Linked DNA regions of Homo sapiens: region 2 is linked to region 1. A link means that fine-mapping ties the variant in region 1 to the expression of a gene that starts in the linked region. Tissue or cell type: blood mononuclear cells. Region 1 holds a variant in brackets; the other region holds the start of a gene. All regions are shown on one strand. Distances are between the middles of the regions.

Region 1 (5,232 bases):
TTGAACGTTGTTGAATGGGATGAAGGTTCAAAGTCTCAGCTTTTCTTATTTTAATTTATCTCCACCTTGTCCTCCTGTCCCAATCTATCCAGCAACTACTTACCTGTCTCATATCATGCCATGTACACTTACATCATCATATGTGCTTTCCCACTTCCCTCTGCCTAGAAAACTCCATGTCCTTCTTACTTTGCAATTTGAATGATATTTTAACTTTCTAAGCCTTCCTGACTCTCCTGCTCTCTGATCACTCAGCCTTTGGGACTTGCCTCTATTACAATTTATTTTACTATAGAAGCTTAATTATTTATTCTCCCTGCCTCTACCCCTCCTGCCTTTTGCTATGACAAACCTCACATACCTACAAAAGGTTTGCCTTATAAGTATGTCTTTGACCCCCTGGCATCAGAAACACCTGGAATGCTAATTTAAATTGCTGTGTTCTGGATCACATCCTAGACATTACTTCAGAATCTCTAGAAATGGGTCTCAGGGATCTGTATTTCAAAGGCATTTTCTTGGAGATTCTTGTGCACACTAAGATTTAAGAACCAGGTGTTAGATGGTGTTAGAACCTGAGGGAAGGAACTGTGCTCTCTGTCTTCATGTTCCAAGCACTTTGCAAATAGTAAACACTCAATTTTTGTGTATTGAATGAGCAAGTAAATGTTCAGTGTAATATTAGAAGTATATGAATCCTAGGAATTCTAAGTTTAACATGTTTTATTACTCCAGATTGGCTCCTATTTTGGTAGTGTGCTGTGTTCAGTTGATGTGGATAAAGACACCATTACAGACGTGCTCTTGGTAGGTGCACCAATGTACATGAGTGACCTAAAGAAAGAGGAAGGAAGAGTCTACCTGTTTACTATCAAAGAGGTAAAAAAAAAAAAATAAACTAATAGTTTAATTTGCTTTAGTACTGGTAATTTAACTTGCATTTGGAAAGAAAAATTTATTATTATTGAATGATAATTTGCACAGATAGTATGGTTTACATTTCATCATTTTTGAGGATGTCCCCATTAAGTTATGATTTTAAAAATCACATTAACAGGAAAAACTAGAGTTGAATGTATAGTGTACTGCCATTTTCCATGAGAGGTCTTTGAATATATAGTCTCTTATGCAAATAAAGCCATTATAAGTGCACATCGTTTATTGAAATATGCACACACACAAACATTTGTGTATTTCTCTAGTATCACATGTAATTTTTTGCGATAAAGACAACAATAACAGGGCAATGCTTTCTTGTTATCAGTTGACAGTGAAAAACAGAAGTTTTACCAAGCACTTTGTAAATTCCTTGTGATCTCAGATGCTTCCTACATTAGTTTGTCAGGAAGTGTCATTGCTTAGTGTAACATTTAGGCATGTATCCAACTCTTGAAGTTTCAAGTCCTTCCACAAAAAAACACCATACATTAACATGGCAAAGCATAATTTTTCCAATTTGTGGACTGAACTCTCTAAATCCATGTATATAAGTGTAGTGAACTCCATGAAATAAAAAAAGAAAACCAAATTAAAGGCACAGATTGACATAGAAAATTATATGCTCCTTAGTATATAAGAAAAGGAGAAGCTGATGTTAAAATAGTAAATACTATGTTTAAGTATTGTGATATTTTGTACCACCTGATTTATTGATATTTATGTAAAAATTAATCTTTTAACAGAAGTAATTAATTAAAACAATTCTAAAGCAATTATACATATAAAGAATGTGTAATTGAGTATCAACAAAGGCTGGACCTAGTTACTTGTTGAAAAACTGACAAATCCCCCCTTCTTTAAATATTTCTTACTTGTGAGATATACTGAATTATCATTAATTGTTGAAAATGAACAGATCTTTTAATACCGTGTCAAACGCAGTAAAAATTTGTATAAGATTATATTAGAGGAGAAAGAACACTGACCCAGTTTCATGGTTGAGAAACATTGCTTTCTTGTGAAGTCATGAAATATTTCCATACTTGATCATAAAATTGAAGAAAAAAACTGTGTTTTACAAGGAAACGTCTTTTCCTTTGCACAGAATTATTTAATGTTTTTAATAATGGAGATATTAACAATCTCATTTTCTACTTCCTGTACCACTATAATTATGTCACTATTTGGTAATTTTTACAGAAAGCCTAAATTAAGATATTGTGTTTTATTTTGTTCTGTGTCTGCTTTAATTTCATTCAAGATATTAGTAATTTTCACCAGAAAAATTTTAAATCAAAAGGTTGGAAATAGATGAAGATCGTATTATTGAGAGGAAAATGAGACCAAGAAATGGATGCTGTTCAGCTACAGTAAAGAGAATTATCTCCTTTGACCTTGGTTTATGAGCAGATATTTATGACCTTACTGAAATTCTTATTTATAATTCTGATCATAAATAGTTCAGGTTTAAAATTCTATCCATTTTTAATATTAAAAAATTAGTTTGGTCATCGATTGCTCTGAATTTTATTTTCTTTTTTATTTTATCATATTTCTTTCACTTTTTTAAATAGATGGGGACTTGCTCTGTCACCCAGGCTGTAGTGCACTGGTGTGATCATAGCTCACTGCAGCCTCTAATTCCTAGGCTCAAGCAATCCTCCCACTTCAGCCTCCTGAGAGCTAGGACTACAGCTGTGTGCCACCACTCCTGGCTAACTTTTTACAAAAATGTTTTATAGAGACAAGGTCTCACTATTGCTCAAGCAGGTCTCAAATACCTGGCTTCAAGTAGTCCTTCTGCCTCAGCCTCTGGAGTCTTTGGGATTACAGGCATGAGCCACCACACCCAGCTGCTCTGAATTTTAATTATACAAGTTGTAAGGTTTGCTTTAATCATCCTTTTGTTTCCCCTTTGCAAGGGCATTTTGGGTCAGCACCAATTTCTTGAAGGCCCCGAGGGCATTGAAAACACTCGATTTGGTTCAGCAATTGCAGCTCTTTCAGACATCAACATGGATGGCTTTAATGATGTGATTGTTGGTTCACCACTAGAAAATCAGAATTCTGGAGCTGTATACATTTACAATGGTCATCAGGGCACTATCCGCACAAAGTATTCCCAGGTAATCCATGAGCTGTTATGGTGATGTATGTATTTGTGGGTCTTATCATATTAGACATAGAAAGCGTCATGTAAACCATGCAATCCGTCCGCCTTATTTTGTAACTTCATTCTTTCACTCAGCAAATATAAAGT[G/T]AGCCTCTACTGTGTGCCCAAGCACTGTTCTAGAGTCTGGGGATGCTATAAGAACAGGACAGACACAATTCTGATCTTTGTGTGCCTTATATTATATTGGAGGAGACAAATAAAAAGAAAGAAGTAGATAAGATAAAGTATTCCAGATAGTAATAAAGGAATTTTTAAAAAAGCAAATGAAACTAAAATAGGAAATAAAATTTCAGCAATAGGAGTATCAGGTGGTTGAAGGGGTGACTAATGAGGCCTCACTGAGCAGCCAATTTTGGAGTAAGACTGGAAGGAAAAGAACTAGGAAATTAACCCTGTACCTGAACTTGCATCAATTTGCTCCAAGTCCACTGATCTTTTCACTGGTTTATGATTTTTTATTAAAGATTTATGCTGTCCCTTCGATGAAAATGTGGCTGTAAGAGTGATGCAGAGATCAGATAATAAGATGTGATTAAAAAATGAATCTTTAGAATTTGTAGAGAATAAACACAATCTGGGACATTACTATATAGAAAATATAATAATGAAATTCAGAGGCTGCCATTTTCTGGTTCAGCTGTTGTGTACTATAATTTCGTGTCAAACCTGCTCTTTTAGAAAATCTTGGGATCCGATGGAGCCTTTAGGAGCCATCTCCAGTACTTTGGGAGGTCCTTGGATGGCTATGGAGATTTAAATGGGGATTCCATCACCGATGTGTCTATTGGTGCCTTTGGACAAGTGGTTCAACTCTGGTGAGTCAGGAAGAGCCAGACACAAACTAACTAAAAATTACCTGCTAAGAAAGCAGAACAGATGTCTGTACTGGTATTATAGAAATGCCACATGCATTCTATAAGACTATAGGGAATCGATGTATCATAGTTTGCACAAAGGAATAAATGTGTTTTTCCAAGTAGGAAAAATAGATATATTTGCTTACCATTAGAAATATAGTTCTCTCCTCATATGGTGAGTAAAACAGTACATAGAAAACATAAAGTTCTGGAAATGGTATCCAGGCTATTTCTGAATGTTATCTTCCTATAAATAGCCTTATCTCAGCATACAGAAGGGAAACCTCATGAGAGTGCATTCAAAAATACTGAAAATTCAGACCACACAAGTAAAGTGTAACTTCTATGTGACTGAATGGTATATTTTAAAATTATTAGTCATAAACAATAAGCCATTATTTAGGTTTAGCTGACCTCTCATTGACCTCCACAGGAGTTGAAGATTCAGAGAGAACAGTGTGAAGGTCATGTGATTCAAGGTCAAAAATAAGTATATTGGGCCGGCAAGGGAATAGAATCAGAAAGAAGTTGTTTATTCAATCAAGAATCTCCATTCATTTGTCTCTGTCAAAAAATGTGCTTTAAATGTACAAATATTTGAAGAACAGAAAAATAATATTCATTGATTATTTTTTATTTCTGAGTTTAATGATACTATTTACAAATCTCACTTGTGCTTTTAAAGAATGAAGTACATTATTTTTATTGCAGAATGAAACTTTTATGTGGAAAAAATAAAACTCAAGAATAATACTTAAGACTTTAAAAAAACAAGAAAATATATTTACTGAATAAATCAGTTAAAATCATTTCAGAGTAGCATATCAAGAGTAAATACACATATCCCAGAACCTAAAGTATAATAAATAACTAATATGTTAAACATGTATTGTGTTAGTGATGCAGTCACAAATTAAAAAAAAAATTATCTCTGTCTGCCATCTTAGAGCTTTCAAATATATACTACTGCTAAAGTGCTTTGATAGAGAGTAGAGAGAAAAATTCAGTAATGCTGGTACTGGGTCCTCTATGATAAAGGATATAATACGTGTGCTCAGTAATAACATCCATCCATCTGTTACTCTTTATGTCTTTTAGGTCACAAAGTATTGCTGATGTAGCTATAGAAGCTTCATTCACACCAGAAAAAATCACTTTGGTCAACAAGAATGCTCAGATAATTCTCAAACTCTGCTTCAGTGCAAAGTTCAGACCTACTAAGCAAAACAATCAAGTGGGTGCGTAGATCTGAAATAATCTGTA
Region 2 (5,232 bases), 45 kb after region 1:
ATCTGTATGATCCTTCCCCACACGACTGATTAAGAAAAACAAATCTCACATACCTAGATGGCTCAAAAGCACTATCCTCCACTAATGGGGGGGATAACGGCAATTTCGTCTCCAGGCTGAAGCACGAGGAGCTGATCTCCAAGCTCGACATATTCTTGACGAACAGCAAATATTATCTGATTTCTAACATCAGCCAATCTAAAGGGGAAAAAATATGACTCAAAGTATCAACGCTATGATAGACCTCAAATCGCTTCAGCTGCAATTAGAGATATTACATAGATATAATTATATAAAGCATCACCTGCAAAATTACCAATTAAATTTACACATAGTATATGGAGAAAGGACATATCCACTGAAGAACATACTTATACACCACAAAGATACGTTAAACTGCTGTCAACTCTTTATTGGATGTTGTATGCCTTGGGGAATTAAACAACAAAAAAATGCACAAAAAACCCACCAGACTGGAGGCAACACTCAAACCAGGTCAAAAGAAAAGTTTCCAATCAGTACATGGCCTTTCCAGGGTCCTTCTATCCATGTGTTCAAGCACAAGTATAACTGCCCACAAACTATGCCTGTACACATTATCCTACTCGAATATGGATTAAGTTGCTTAGAAAGATGAAAAAGATAGCATAGGTCATAAAGCCACCTGCAACACAGCTTTATTAGCTGTTCCTTTATACCTGAACAATGGTAAGCTTTCTTTTCAGGCACAGTGAAAACGTATACAAGACCTGCTGTCTCCCTCCAGGTAAAGCAGAATGGGAGACCCCACTGTGTTTTATTGATTATCAGGCCACTGTAAGAGCAACTTAAAAGATACGAAATCATGAAGTGGTTTGCTTTTAAACACTTATTATGGAGTATCTTTTACACAGAACTAGGACTTCCAGGTTAAACACCTATACAAGCTAAGTAACACCATTAATATTCCTGAATCACCCTCAAATAAGTCACTTTTATATTTTGTTCCAAAAAGAACTTGAAGTGGGAATGACATAAGTAAAATTATAGGTTTTTCAAGAACCAGAAAAAAAATTAAATATTACAAAAACTCAAATTCAGCAGCATCTAGGATTTGTTGTAACTCATTTTTCTTTCAATCTTAGAAATTTCTATGTTGAGCTCTCTAAAGAGAGGGGCAGAACAAAATGTTTAAAGCACACATTTTTAACAGAATTTGTAACAATTTCATTTAATGTTATAAAATTGCAGAAGTGACATGTGCAGTGTTTTGTAAATTATCAAAGAGAATATAATCATGTCCCTCTGCGGTTCACTGTGTTTTGGGGTAAAATATCTTTAACCTTTCTTAAAATACGGTGCACATTTAGAGTTTTTCAGGTGTTCCAAAAAAAATACAACTAACGATTCTTTTTGACATTAAGCACGGAAATCGAAATTAACCTTTTTACTTTTATCATTTATGTATTTTGAAAATATCTAAGTGTTACTCATATGCATTCTACAAATTTTTAACTACCCAGGATGTCGAGTTTCTATCTCCTTCCACAGCTGCAACGCTTTTATTTCTTGAGGCACAGAAATGGTCTCTGAACGAACTCCTGTTATTTCAGCACTTTTTGCAAAATACAATACTTCAACCTGAAAGTAAAGAAAATGCTTTTAATAACAACTCATACTCGTTTTCTGACTGTCAATGTTGAGCAGTTTTCTCATTTTCCAAATGTATTGCTTTAATCAAAGACAAATTTTATAAAGAAAATTAAATAACCCGTAAAAAATTTCAGTATACCTACAAGTTCAAATTCTGAAAACTTGTTGTTTTAAATACAATTCAGACTAATTTCTGGATGCCTTTTAGTTTTACAAACTTAAGTGTGCCATCATTAAAATCCTAAGTATTTATCTTCTAGGAAAACATGTTAAGCCTGCCTTAATTGACATAAAAGTATAGCACCTTTTATAAATATGTAAGCAAAGAACAAATGTTTGAGTCAAGAGATGAGTTACACAAATAAAATAAATGAATAAATAAGCGAAAAACCTGTTTCTCACGGTTGTCAAATGACCTTAGATTCCGGTCTGTATAACATCGTCCCCAGACGCTAAGGATTAAGTTATGCAACATAGTAAATCTGACATTTACAGAAGCAAGTAGGTTTGAAACACACGACAGACTGGAATTTGCTAGAACAAACTTGTGCCAGCAGCCTGGTATGTAAGGGATCCGACGAAGTAAAATAGGCACCTGTCACTCCGTGCAAACAACTCTTTACGAAATAATTACAGGTTTGCAAATGATCAAGGGTGTAGAAATCCACAGATGAAGCACAGTTCTTCACAAGAATTCTCCATGAGGTGCATTTCTTTTTAGATTAAAATTTTAGCTTCATCAAAACGAATAATCTGGGAAAGAGGTGGTCATAAAAGGTGGAGGCGCCTTCAGAACGAGTCCGTCCTTGCTGCCGTGAGCTGACAAGAGTTCTCGGAGAGGACCCGACTTCTGCTGGGGCAGTCGCAGTAAAGCCCGGAGACAGGAAGGGCCCGGGGGCGGGGGCGGGGGCGCCCCCGAACCCAAGACGCCGGCCAGGTTGGGGGCTAGTGGGGAGGTCCGACTGACCAAGGCTGGGTATGTGGAGGGAAAGGGCGGGAGAGACACGTCGAGGAGGGCTCCGCACCCAGGCCCGCACGCACACCCGCCACCCTTACCTGGCACAGCGGCACCATCCCGCCTAGGACAGCGGGACCGAATCACGGCCGCAAAGGCGCAGGCGCGGGCTCACCCGGAGCGCAGGCGTAACCCGACGGCGCTCAGCCCCCGCCTGCGCCTGCACGGAGCATGCGCACAACCAGCTCCGCCCCGCGCCGGGCTCTAGCTGTTTCCCTCAGGCGGCCTGTTCCACGCCAGGATTAGTTTTGCTTCGCAGATGGGCCGTGGTGGTGAGAGGAAGCAATCAGTATGGAAATGGAGAAATGGCTTACCATGCATGTCCTTCTCCCCAGGAGGGAGGTCGTGGTGCAGGCGAGCAGACGCCAGACTCCTGGACACTTGCCGCCTGCGTTATGGAGGCTTAGCTAATAACCTTGCAGGGGTCTTCAGGCTTTTCCACTGGCTCACCTTTAGGCTTCTGACACTTTTACCTACGGTATGTGAACCTCGAAAATTTGAGACAGGTCTCAGTTAACTTAGAAAGTTTATTTTGCCAACGTTGAGGACATGCCCGTGACACAGCCTCAGGAAGTCCTGAGGACATGTGCCCAAGGTGGTCAGGGCACAGCTTGGTTTTATACATTTTGGGGAGACAGGAGACATCAATCAATATGTAAAAAGTACATTAGTTCCTTCCAGAAAGGCGGAGACCGTTAAAAGCAAGCCCCGCCCCCCCCAACTGGGGGCTTCCAGGTAGGTAATAGACAGTAGCATTCTTTTGAGTTTCTGATAAGTCTTTCTAAAGGAGGCAATCAGAATATGCATCTATTCTTTGTCAGCAAAAGAGGTGACTTGGATAGAATAGGAGGCAGATTTGCCCTGAGTAATTCCCAGTTTGAAGGGGCCCAAGATTTTTTTCTTTCCCAGGTATATGATTAGTGTTTCTTAAAGACAGAATATCCGCCTGGTCAGAACATTCGAACTGTATGACTTTTCCTGTTTATTGGCTGCTCGGTAATTGTATACTGTCCGTCCAACTTTCCCAATTCTTGCCAACAAGAACTCTTGGCTTTAAATTGCTTGCGTCGTTAAGTGGATGTAAGTTACACGTCCCTTTCCTTGGAGCTCACAGTCCTGGGTAGGAGAGTTTTAAATATGAATGATAATTCCCTGTAATACTAAGGATCTGTGTTACATTTCAAGGGTGGAAGGGGAAAGTGGTTGTGTCACCTGGGGAGTGAGAAGATGCTGAGAAGGTAAATCTGCTAGAATGGTGGCAGTAAATGACAAGAGTGGGAGTAGAGCACGAAGAAATTTCACTTGCCTCTGACAAGCCACAGGGATATGAAGAAGCATAATAAGTTCACAGAAGGGCAAGTAGTTGGCAAGGCAGGTGTGCCTCCAGCAAAGGAGGTGATGAGAAGTGAGGCTGGAGAGTCCTTGGTAGGAAAAATTGACAAGGAGCAATGAATACCAATGTGTATCCTGGTAAAGTTGCTAAACATAAAGGATAAAGACTATATTCACACCCAGGCATAAAAACAAGGGAATGACAATAGTGGCCTTAGACTCCTCAGTGGCATCTGATGGCAATGTGCAGTGTGTAAAAAAGGCTGAGAACAAAAGCATGATCCCATAATATTACAGCCAAACTGGTGGGGCAGGATTCTCCTAAATCAGCAAAAACTCAAAAAACACAATACCCAAGAACCCTTCTTAAAAATCTTTCTTGGGCAAAAAGTCCACTCAATCAAGAGTAATCAAAGTAAATAACTCAGCAATAAAGGTATTAATATGGGAAAAATGAAAAACTAAAAAAACTGGCATTGAGATTTTAACCCATTCAAACGTAAAACTAAGATATCAATTATGGGATATGATTATAAAATAAAATGTAAATGACATCAGAATATTAAAAAAAAATGGAAACTGTCCAAAGTGGGAACATATAGTTACAAAATATCAATTCAGGTTTCTTAATATTTTTCATAATCTTCTTTATTTTAGAAAATATTTTAGGAGCAACTATCTTTTACAAATAAACAATAATCTGATGATTTATAATCCTATCAGTTTCACCAGTTATTTTGTTGATAAATTCAAGTAAATATAGGTCAATAATATTGCCTTGCTTTCATTTTTTTATTTTCTAATTCCTAATGAGGTGAATCTTTTCATATTTTCATTGAGCACTTATACTTCTCTGTGAAGTTTCTGTTCACATCGTTTATTCATTATGCTGTAGATATGACACAGTTCTTTTTTTTTTTACAAAATACAGCCCCATCTATAATTTGTGGATATGCAAGCAAAACTGATACCAAAATATTCCAGGCTTATTCCATAGGCTTTGATTTTACTTTTCTTATGAATTCATTAATTAAATCAGTGAATCATCACAATGGTATATAAATTATTTTAGTAATAGCAAAATGACTTTATGAACATTTGCATTTCACTTAAGCTACAATTTTTTGTGAAAACATAGTTGGAGCCACCATTTTCCCAGTTATTTTTACCATAAGGAATCCTATTTGGTTAAGAAAAAAAACAAGTTGAGGCAAAAACATTTCCATTTTGTTTTCAGATTGAAAAAAGACGAG

The links. PIP is the estimated chance that this variant, and not a neighbour inherited with it, causes the effect.
Region 2: MOCS2-DT starts here. The variant in region 1 is fine-mapped to the expression of MOCS2-DT in blood mononuclear cells (TOPMed, PIP above 0.99). The same link has a PIP of 0.9 or more in whole blood.

Annotation. Positions count from the first base shown.
Region 1 is chr5:53,062,051-53,067,282 of GRCh38, forward strand. ITGA2 (integrin subunit alpha 2) reads left to right here. Exons shown (of 30, transcript NM_002203.4): 13 at 736-879; 14 at 2,862-3,065; 15 at 3,791-3,927; 16 at 5,068-5,207. Among named protein-coding and RNA genes, the nearest start is that of MOCS2, 45 kb to the right of the region's middle. The variant G/T (reference allele first, on the strand shown) is at 3,200.
Region 2 is chr5:53,107,024-53,112,255 of GRCh38, forward strand. MOCS2-DT (MOCS2 divergent transcript) reads left to right here and starts at 2,819. Exons shown (of 2, transcript NR_104654.1): 1 at 2,819-3,125. It overlaps MOCS2 (molybdenum cofactor synthesis 2), which reads right to left and starts at 2,734. Exons shown (of 7, transcript NM_004531.5): 1 at 2,228-2,734; 2 at 1,499-1,620; 3 at 54-198. The coding sequence starts at 151. RefSeq lists a silencer at 2,473-2,762.